4 separate regions of the Homo sapiens genome follow, and regions 1, 2 and 4 are each linked to region 3. Evidence: fine-mapped expression QTL. A gene starts in region 3. Each other region holds a variant in brackets. All regions are shown on one strand. Distances are from middle to middle. Region 1 overlaps TMEM87B (transmembrane protein 87B). Region 2 overlaps MERTK (MER proto-oncogene, tyrosine kinase). Region 3 holds the start of MERTK (MER proto-oncogene, tyrosine kinase). Region 4 overlaps MERTK (MER proto-oncogene, tyrosine kinase).

Region 1 (2,705 bases), 160 kb before region 3:
AAAAGCAATTTATCTAGTTTTAAAAATCTGAGACTCAAAGTTAAATTTCACAAAAAACAAATTTTTTTTGTTCGTCTATTAGACTTTAATTATAATTTTCATAAAATGATTCACATTACATTTTCTGAAAGAAGATCAGAAAAATCCATTCTTGTGGGCCATGCACAGTGGCTCATGCCTGTAATCCCAGCACTTTGGGAGGCTGAGGTGGGTGGATCACCTGGGGTCAAGAGTTGGAGGCCAGCCTGGCCAACATGGTGAAACCCCATCTTTACTAAAAATACAAAAATTAGCTGGGCGTGGTGGCGTTCGCCTGTAATCTCAGCTACTAGGGAGGCTGAGGCAGGAGAATCACTTGAACCTGAGAGGCGGAGGTTGCAGTCATCCGAGATCTTGCCACTGCACTCCAGCCTGGGTGACAGAGAAAGACTCTGTCTCAAGAAAAAAAAAAAGAAAAATCCATTCTTGTAAATAACCAAGTGCTGACTGAAACAAAACAAAACCTTAAAATGTTAGAACTACTTAAAAACAAAACATTTGCTTAGTTTATTATATATGTTATATTCATTTACATGAATGTATTTGTTTATATTATGTTGTTTATATATATATTAGTATTTCATTATTCTTGTTTGTTTGTTTTTGAGACAGAGTCTCACTGTGTCGCCCAGGCTGGAGTGCAGTGGCGCGATCTCGGCTCACTGCAAGCTCTGCCTCCCGGGTTCAAGTGATTCTCCTGCCTCAGCCTCCCAAGTAGCTGGGACTACAGGTGCCCACCACCATGCCCAGCTAACTTTTTTTGTATTTTTAGTAGAGACGGGGTTTCACTATGTTGGCCAGGCTCGTCCTGAACTCCCGACCTTGTGATCCACCTGCCTCGGCCTCCCAAAGTGCCGGGATTACAGGCGTGAGCCATTGCGCCCAGTCTAGTATTTTATTGTTTTATTATACTTACCAGATAACTTGATATCTGTAGAGTTAAACATAGTTTTCCTAAATATCAAAGGTCCTGATTTCTAAAATGAAAAACAAACACAGGAAGATCTTGTTAGAAAGTTTTTTTTGCAACTGTTTTACCCCACAACATATAGAGTTCTAAGCCTTGCACTCCTCTCTCTGACAAGAGTATTTTTTTAACGTAAATCTGATCACATCACTAACTTGCTTAAAACCTTGTCATGGTTCTACTTCCTGCAGTTACCCTGAGGATCAGGAGGGCTCTGGCCTCTAGCAGACTCAGTTAGGGCCAGTGACACATAAGAGGTAAAAGATGCTGCCATTGCAGGATTAGTGCTGCTCAGACGTGACATGAACTGACTGCATTTGCATGTTGCTCTCCTGGCGTCAATTTGAATGTACTTTTGATAAGGAACTGTCCCCCTCTCCCAGCTCCAAGTCGTTATGGTTTACCAATGCAATTACAACAGACCGAAATTCTTACTGTAGCCTATAGGACGTGAATAATCAAGTCCTGCCCACCTCTCAACTTTCCAGTTCCAGAAAAG[C/A]ATGATATTCTTTCCTGCCCTCAGGATTAGTGGTCAACCTGAAAAATTTACTTTAAAATCCTTCCTTTCACCCTTTGTTCATCTAGTTGGCTCCTTCTCACCCTTCAAAGCCCAGCTCAAAAGCCCGTTCTGCAGGAATTCTTCCACTGTGGCCCATATCCGGCCAGGCCCTCCCTTATATAATCCCTAGCACCCTTTCTTCTTCACAACCTTTCCACAATTTAAATCAAATAATTGATTAGTTGTTTAATGTCTTCTCAGGAATAAAAATCCTGCAGTTAGAGACTGTGTTAAATGTACAAATGATTAGGCATTAAAAACAAAACAAAACAAAACAAAAAACACTGATAGGACAAGTGGTAACCTCTTCCCTTCCCCAACAGAGTTTCAACAACAACAATAAAATTCCCAACTTGGATCCTTCCTTTGAGCTCCAGATCCAAATACCCAACTGCCTAAAGGACATGTCCACTGACAGATGTCCAACAGACAAACCTGTTTTAAACCAGACACACTCCTCTCTGCTCACCAACTTTTCCTACATTGTCCACCTTGGCTGGAGGTGGTACCATCTACAGTCACCCAAGCCATGGCTCCTTCCAGTTCCCCACTTCCATCACCCAATCCCCAAGGCATGCCTACTTTATCTCACAAACATTTATCAAATTTAGTTCTTCCTCTCCATCTCTGTCACCACTGCCCTAATTTAGGCCCTCTGCATTTCCTGCCTAATTTCTGCAATAGCTTAACTGGTACTTCTACCTCCAGATCTGATCCTATAATTCATCTTTAGACAGCAGCCATAGTGATTAGCATTATGTCTAAGATCTTTCAATGGCTCCCTCATTCACATCCTAAAGTAGCTACTGGGAGTCTGGAGGTCTAATCCAACCTAAAAATGGGATATACTGGGCCCACAAGAGGCCTTTTTAAAACTTTAGTTGACATAATAAAAAGATGGATTCCAGTCTCACTTAAAAAAACGAGCTGTGGCAATTCTGTGCCCACTCTGCTAGAATGTATGCAGAGTAAGCTGAAGCCAAATGGCAGCTGCCCTCTTCAGAATGGGCATGCAATCTGTAGTCCACAACATTCCTCACTACCCCCTCCAGTCCTGAACTTAGCTCACTGTGCTTAATGATATGACTTGCCTTGGCCAACACAGGTCCTTGAGTTTGAGGCCTCTGGCCTCAGGCTCAA
Region 2 (2,705 bases), 100 kb before region 3:
AGTCCTGTATAATAAAACATTCCTTATTTATTTATTTATTTATTGAGCCAGAGTCTAGCTCTGTTGCCCAGGCTGGAGTGCAATGGTGCAACCTTGGCTCACTGCAACCTCTGCCTCCTGGGTTCAAGCGATTCTTGTGCCTCAGCCTCCCAAGTAGCTGGGACTGCAGGCATGCACCACCACACCCAGCTAATTTATGTATTTTCAGTAGAGACGGGTTTTATCATCTGGGCCAGGCTGGTCTCGAACTCCTGACCTCAAGTGATCTACCCACCTCGGCCTCCCAAAGTGCTGGGATTACAGGTGTGAACCACCATAGCCGGCCCCTTTTTTCATTTTGTATCTATTATTTCTCTCCCAAAAATGCCAGTAATAAAATTTCATACTTTAGAATGATTAAACTAAGTATAATGAATCCTTCAGGGCAAGGTTAATTCTGAAGAATTACAAAAATCAGAACCACATTTCTCATTCTGTTGTGTGGTAGCAGCAGCCGGTAATCAGATTCATGTAGGGGTGGTTTGCCTTTGACTTAAAGGGGTAAGGAAGATAAGTCAATAGGTAATTTCTGGTGAATTCTTTACTATTAATATTATACCCTTGACTACAGTATACAAAAGAACCACACGTCCCCTACCCTCCCATGCCATGGACGGAGTCTCACAAACCACAGGAAACATCTAGAGAATAAGCTCTTATTTTACATACTGTATATGAAACCTATTATAACAGCATAGCAAGGGCTAAATTGAGCACTTTGAGGAATTGGAGAAAAAGATTTTTCTATAATAAAATATATAATATAGTAAGGTATATAATAGATGAGTCATGTTGGCAACAAGAGAAATTAACCAGAAGGGGACCAGTTCAACAACTCTTGGCAAATGATTCAGTCTGGACCACAGTTAAGGCATGAACAAGCTCTTGAAAGATCAAAAAAATGTGGATAATTAGGACACATTAGTTCTCAGAGAAAAAGCTTTATCCAGTGGTTCTCCAATAAAGGAAAGAAAGTGGTCTAAATGACAAATTTTAAAATTTTAAATTAAAAAAAAAATTGAGGATATCTAAAAGTCAAAACTTACAGACTAGAAAGGTAAAGAAATTAATAATATTCTACACCAAGCAAGTTTCTATTTCATAGCAACCTGTATTCTGTCATTCTTATCTATTTTCTTTATTGGGGGCAAACATCCAGAAGCATGAATTTGTTAATATTTGCATGTCCTTTCTATACTTTTTCTGAAATTATTCAGGAACACTAGTGTCTGTTTATTTCCGCTGTTTAAACCAGAAGCC[C/T]CCACTCTCTGATTCAGCAAAGCTCAAACCATAATTACTATAAAGCATGTTGGCAAATCATCCTCGGAGTTGGTTGCCAGGAAAACAGGAAATGAGGCTTGAGATTATGTTCACTAGTTAGAAGTTTTCTTTAAATCCCTGGCCTCTACCCATCTTCTGTCACCCTAGAAGGTTCCTCTTTTCTGCCACATTTCATGACATTGTGAGTCCTTTTAACCCCAGGTCAAGCTCCTGATTGCAGTAAATTAGCCCACAGAGCTGTGCATGGCAATGTCTGGCTATCTACTTGCTGCTTTTAAAGACATTTTGTACATTAAAAATATCCATTCTTCTTCGACATCTTTGGCTTTTGTTAGAAATCTGTCTATTGATCCTTCTTTGTTCTCAACTATTTTAACTTTTGCCAAAAAGGGAAATGAAAGTCAACTTACAGGTAAGTTCAATGGCTCGCCGACAGAAGGATTTCTTTGCTATATAATTCACCACTAATTCAGAATCCTCCTCTGTGAATGCATTCCTGGGTGAATGAAAACAAAGATACTTCACTATAAAAACAGGGCTACTGGGGCAGGCACTGATTCCACAAGGATGCTACAGAGCTTCCGCTTTTCAATGGGCTCTTCTACAACAAAAGCTTTCCCCCTAGAAGAAACGTGTTTCTTTCCTTTGATTTATTTTAGACTTACTTGGCAATATTGAAACTACTCTAGCCAGGTACCGCCAAGAACAGAGAATAACAGATAAGCTCCCAGTGGCCAAAGCTGTAACAGTCTGAGCAAGAAACTAAAGTAATACTAGACTATGAGTATAAAATGAATATCCATAAGTCTATACTTATGAAAATATGATTGAATGAATGAATGGAAGAAAAGACACCAATCTCCTGTGGTGAAGAATTCCAAATATTTTATGTAGCTAGTAAGGGGTGGAGGGAGTTAAACCCTCATGCTGTCAATATGGGCTATGCATAGTGACTTGCTTCCAAAGAACAGTAGGGAAAGGGAGAAAAAATAACTTCATGGTAGAGAAACCCAGCAAATACTACTTCAGCCAGGTGATCAATGTCAACATCAACAGTGATACATCATGTTAATATGCACCCTTGATAAGAAGTGATGACAATGGCATTTTAATTCTGTGCTCCTCCTCTCAATCACCCATAACCCCTGCTCATTATCAGCAAAACATCGAACACATTGCAATAGAGGGGCATCCTACAAAACACCCGACTAACACTTCTGAAAACTGGCAAGATCATCAAAGACAAGGAAGGTCTAAGAAATGGCCACAGCCAAGAGGAGCCTAAGGAGATGTGATGACTGACTGTAAAATGTGGCATCCTGGAAGGGATCCCAGAACACTAAAGGGACATTAGGTGAAAATTAAGGAAATCTCAAGAAAGTAGA
Region 3 (2,617 bases):
AAGGAAAATCTCAAAGGAAAAACTTTTAAGTAACTTACTTGACTATAAACTGAGCTTTCCAGGTATTCCTAAAAAACATCTTTGACTGTAATAGGTGAAGGCTAGTCAAGTGCATTCTCGATCAAAAGAGAGAAAATCTACATGCTGAATGGAAATAGAAACCTTTTAGCTGAGAGAAAATACTTGGAATGTGTTTATTTAGCATTTTTCCCCTTTCTTTTTCTTTTGGGTAAAGCCTGGTAAGTTTATTCCAGCCTCCTCAAGAAGTGCATCAGCGATCAAACTTGAAATCTGTTCATCACTCACTCCCCAAATAAGCTGTTCAAGCAGAATGAAACCGGCCTTCCTTGCCTCCACGTATCAGTCCAGCATCTTGTATTAAAATGCCTGGAACAAGCCGGGCGCGGTGGCTCACGACTGTAATCCCAGAACTTTGGGAGGCCAAGGAGAGCAGATCACGAGGTCAAGAGATCGAGACCATCCTGGCCAACATGGTGAAACCCCGTCTCTACTAAAAATACAAAAATTAGCCGGACGTGGTAGCGCGCGTCTATAGTCTCAGCTACTCGGGAGGCTGAGGCAGGAGAATCGCTTGAACCCGGGAGGCGGAGCCTGCAGTGAGCCGAGATCGCGCCGCGGCACTCCAGCCTGGGCGACAGGGCGAGACTCGGTCTCAAATTAAAAAAAAAAAAGCCTGTAACAACACTTCGCTGAATCCAGATAAACGTAAACGCTGCCGAGCACTGTAAGTTCTGTTCTGCCATAACAGGAGTGAAAAGAACGCTCCCCTTTTCCCACACTCTCTGGGTGCCCCTAAAAAGGGATACTAATAATGCCCGTAAGGGCCCATTGGGAGCAGCCAGGACTGCCGTCCCCCCCTGGCCCGTCGCTCGGCCTCAGTCTATCGCGGCTCCCGGACTGCGGCTCCGACTCCCGCAGCCCGTTCGTTCGCCCCGCGCCGGTCCCTCGGGAGACCGGATCTGTGGCCCCCGGGACTCCGGCCAGAGCGGGGCCCCACCATGCAACTCTAGTGGAAAGTTCTCGTCGCATCCCAGACCAGACCTGCTACCTACGTTCCACTCGTCGGAACTTCAGGACTTGCAGCGCGCCCGGCCGAGCTCGATTTCCTCCTCTGCGGTGAAGAGGGGAGCCTGCAACGCCGACCCCGACCCGGCTTCACCACGATGCGCACCCGCAAGCCAGGCTGGGTGCCCTCGGGACGCTTGAGGCGCCGCGGTCAGTGGACGGTAGGTTCGCCTACGCCCCCTCCTCTGGCACCGCAGTGGGTGGAGGGTGTTTGCAAACTTGTCCAGCAGCCAGGCGCGCCCCTGTGGACGCGCTCCCTCCCCAGAGGCCCCTGCTTCCTCCTGGGAGCCCCCACCCCCTCGCCTGGCCCCCAGCCGGGCGCACTCACCTCTACGCCAGAGCGCGGGGAGGAAGAGGCCCAGCAGCAGCGGCAGCGGGGCCGGCCCCATCCCGGGGCTGCGGATCTGTAATTTCTCTCCGGACGGATGGACAGATGGACGTCCCGAACCTGTCCTGTCGCCGGCCAAGCGCGCCAGCGAAGCTCCCTGTCCGGGCGGCCCGGGCAGTGAGTGCCGAGTGGCGGAGCCAAGCGGCCGGCGGGAGGTGCCGAGGGCTGGAAGGGGCGGGCCGGGGGCCGAGCCGAGGCCGGCCGGGGCTGGAGGAGAGGAGCGGGCAGGGGGGCGAGTCCCGGCGGGCCCAGCAGGTTGGGGTGGGAGGGGGCGGGAGGACGAGGGGGAGGAGGGGCGTAAAGGGGAAAGGGAGGGGGTTGGAGAGAAGGGGCGGGCCGAAGGCCGCCGCTGGGCAGACGGCGGGGAAGGGGGCGGAGAGGAAGGGGAGGGGGCTGAGAGACCCGGAGGGAGCCGGAAAGAGAAGTGAAGGGGAGGGGTGGACTGGAGGTCCACAGCGGAAGGCTCTGGCCGCTGCGCGGGTCCGGGGCCCCACACGTGTGGGTGGGAGATGGGGAAGGACAGAAGGTGGGAGAGGAGTAGAGGATGCCCGAGGCAGCCCCCAGACCCAAGAGGAGGGTCCAGAGGCGCCCCCGCATTCCGGGCTTGGCTGACACAGAAAACCCTGGCCGCGCCGCTCCCAGAGGCCAAGGCCAGGGCGGCAGCGCTCCCTGCCGAGCGCTCCTCCACATCCATTCCGCTCGCCGCCGAGCGCCGCCTGGGTACCCGGCCCGAGGTGCGCGACACGGCCCTGGCGGCGAGGAGCTCACCTCCCCAGGGGGAGGGGTTCCTGGGAAAGGACGCTTTGCCGTGGCTCCGTGACGAGCCAGAGAGAGGTGACACTCAAGGAGGGAGATGAACGTGAATGACAAAGTGCAGAGCAGGAGTGGGGAGAGGGGGAACCACAGCACGTCACTCTCATGGGCCTCCACAAGGTGTGCAGGGTCCAAGAGGCAGTAGCAGAGAGTGAGTCGTAAGAGAAATGTAACTACTTACGCTAATAATGGCAACAGTAACTTAATTTATATACGTAGTTTCTTAAAGGTAACACTTTTAGAATGAATGTATTTTAATGTGGTCCCTTTAACAACATAACATAAGCCAAATCATGTCCCTCTCCTCAAATCTCCCTAAACCTATCAGTG
Region 4 (2,705 bases), 120 kb before region 3:
GAGTCTTCACCAATTATCACAGGACCAAAGCACCACAAGTACATATTCAGGAATTTTCATTTTGCTCCCGTAGGCCCTGCCTATAAGTTTCAACAGTCTAGTGTTTTCTCTAGCTTATAAAAATCAAACTAGATTGCTGTGTTAGAAAACCAGCCACTGTTGGAATCAGTTATGAGGATGACTGCTGATAAAACTTCCATGTAGTAATTAAGTGTTTTAGTGCAATCATGGCCCTGCAGAAAAGGATTTGCACAAGTCCCTGGCAGTCATGAATGGGTCCATCCATTATGTACCCTCCCCAAGGCACTGAATTTGCCATGGCTTCCTTTCCAAACATGAGTTTTCCAAAATGGTACTCATTTTGGAAAGACATTGCATTTTCAATGATTTTATACTCCAAGACACATGTCAATTACATACTGTATAAATAAATGAAATGTCTTAATCTTTAAGTATGGAAGTTTTATGCCTCTATTCTGTATTATTTGGGTATTTGGTTTTCTAGATACTGATTTCCAGGAAAGGATTTGGGTCATAAGAAATATTGCATCTTGCTGTCATTCATGAAGATGTAATGAGTATCAGGTACTATTCATTTGTGCTGTTTTTTCCTAGAACACTTCTGTTATTCCTGGAGACTGTGACCAAAAGTCACTTAAAAAATAATTGTATAGCAGAATTAATAAATGAGTTCAGCAAGGTTGTAGGATACAAGATGGACATACAAAAATCAACTGTATTTTTATATACTAGTGATGAATAATCTGAAAATGAAATTAAGAAAATTCTTTCTTCTCCTCCTCCTTCTTCTTGTGTAGGAGCTGTTTTAATAGCTTGGGCTACAAATGCAATTGTAGCCCTTTAATTTCTCAATTAATTCCTCAAGCACCCACCTAGCCAACTCTGGAACTGTGCTACTTCTGGGCTTTATTGCATGAGATCCTGTATCTCCGTTGAAAGTCATTTTGAGTTGGGTTTTGTATTACATGCTGGTGAAGTCATTCTACTTGTTGTAGAACCTAAACATTGACCCCAACTTCTCTTTCCTGTTTTATCACCCCTCCTCCTATCCTTCCATTGCTTTGCTGTTGCCATGTGAGACAATCTGCTTTTCTTAAAACATAGGTATGCTCCCAGATCATTTGGTCTTTGCTCATTCTGATCTTGTGTGCTGCTCTTAATTTTCCACTGTACTCCTCCTACCACTCTTTTGAGGATATCCATGATGGCAGTGTGGAATTTTTTTTTTTTTGAGACGAAGTCGTGCTCTGTCACCCAGACTGGAGTGGTGCAGTGGCGCGATCTGAGCTCACTGCAAACTCTCCCTCCCAGGTTCAAGCGATTCTCCTGCCTCAGCCTCCCAAGTAGCTGGTATTACAGGCATGCACCACCACGCC[C/T]GGGTAATTTTTATGTTTTTAGTAGAGATGGGGTTTCTCCATGTTGGCCAGGCCAGTCTCAAACTCCTTGAAAGGTGAAGCCAGCTGGACTTTCTGGGTTGAGTGGGGACTTAGAGAACTTTTCTGTCTAGCTAGAGGATTGTAAATGCACCAATCAGTGCTCCGTGTCTAGCTAAAGGATTGTAAATGCACCATTCAGCACTCTGTAAAAACGCATCAATTGGTGCTCTGTGTCTAGCCAAAGGACTGTAAATGCACCAATCAGCACTCTGTGTCTAGCTAGAGGGTTGTAAATGCACCAATCAGCACTCTGTAAAATGGACCAATCAGCACTCTGTAAAATGGACTAATCAGCAGGATGTGGGTGGGGACAAATAAGGGAATAAAAGCTGGCCACCCCCAGCCAGCAGTGGCAACCCGCTTGAGTCCCCTTCCACACTGTAGAAGCTTTGTTCTTTCACTCTTCACAATAAATCTTGCTGCTGCTCACTCTTTGGGTCCATGCCATCTTTAAGAGCTGTAACACTCACTGCAAAGGTCCGCGGCTTCATTCTTGAAGTCAGCGAGACCAAGAACCCACCAGAAGGAACCAACTCCGGACACATCCTGACCTCAGGTGATCCACCCGCCTTGGCCTCCCAAACTGCTGGGATTACAGGCGTGAGCCACCACACCCAGTCAGCAGTGTAGAATATTTTAAACATTTCTCCAGTCAGAACTCATTTCTTCCCTGAAGCTCTAGCAGGCTGCTCACATCACTGTGTGATGCATATGTTATTACAGCCTATCTCCCTTTGTACTATCGATCTCCATGAGAACTGGGGGTCATGTCTCATCATCTACCTGTCTGCCCTGCACAGCTCCAGAGACAATGTCTGCCCTGGGCAGAGTGGCACTATGGGTCCAGCACCCTAGCCCTCCTGGAGAAGCATGTTTAAATACATTGATATTGGGCCATCGCAGTATCAAATGCACTGATAATAGTCTTGGGCTGCTCTAGCAGGAGCAGGAGCTATTTATTCCAGGCAGCAAAGAAAAGATCTGAATAAAAGCTTGATTTTTCTGTTTGTCTATGCACTTTGTGTCTTCCACCTTATCTGTGGCTACTAAGCAACAAAATAGGAAACTACATTCCTTTTTATCTTTTTAATACTTGAAAGTTATTTTCCATCATTGAAAATACACTTGTATTTTTTTGCAAATGGAAACTATTCATCAGTCAGTAAAATGTTGTGTACTTGTTTCCCTTACTTGTTATTTTGTTCAAAAGGATATAAGATTACAGCAGAACTTTTGCCAGACACAGAT

The links. PIP is the estimated chance that this variant, and not a neighbour inherited with it, causes the effect.
Region 1: its variant is fine-mapped to the expression of MERTK in whole blood (TOPMed, PIP above 0.99).
Region 2: its variant is fine-mapped to the expression of MERTK in whole blood (TOPMed, PIP 0.99).
Region 4: its variant is fine-mapped to the expression of MERTK in whole blood (INTERVAL, PIP above 0.99).

The regions. Positions count from the first base shown.
Region 1 is chr2:112,058,288-112,060,992 of GRCh38, reverse strand. TMEM87B (transmembrane protein 87B) reads right to left here. Exons shown (of 19, transcript NM_032824.3): 2 at 956-1,016. Among named protein-coding and RNA genes, the nearest start is that of TMEM87B, 4.4 kb to the right of the region's middle. RefSeq lists a silencer at 205-419. The variant C/A (reference allele first, on the strand shown) is at 1,506.
Region 2 is chr2:112,000,312-112,003,016 of GRCh38, reverse strand. It overlaps MERTK (MER proto-oncogene, tyrosine kinase), which reads right to left. Exons shown (of 19, transcript NM_006343.3): 11 at 1,731-1,816. Among named protein-coding and RNA genes, the nearest start is that of TMEM87B, 54 kb to the left of the region's middle. The variant C/T (reference allele first, on the strand shown) is at 1,300.
Region 3 is chr2:111,897,594-111,900,210 of GRCh38, reverse strand. It overlaps MERTK (MER proto-oncogene, tyrosine kinase), which reads right to left and starts at 1,604. Exons shown (of 19, transcript NM_006343.3): 1 at 1,415-1,604. The coding sequence starts at 1,475. RefSeq lists an enhancer at 2,136-2,465.
Region 4 is chr2:112,016,180-112,018,884 of GRCh38, reverse strand. All of the region lies in intron 15 of MERTK (MER proto-oncogene, tyrosine kinase), which reads right to left. Among named protein-coding and RNA genes, the nearest start is that of TMEM87B, 38 kb to the left of the region's middle. The variant C/T (reference allele first, on the strand shown) is at 1,398.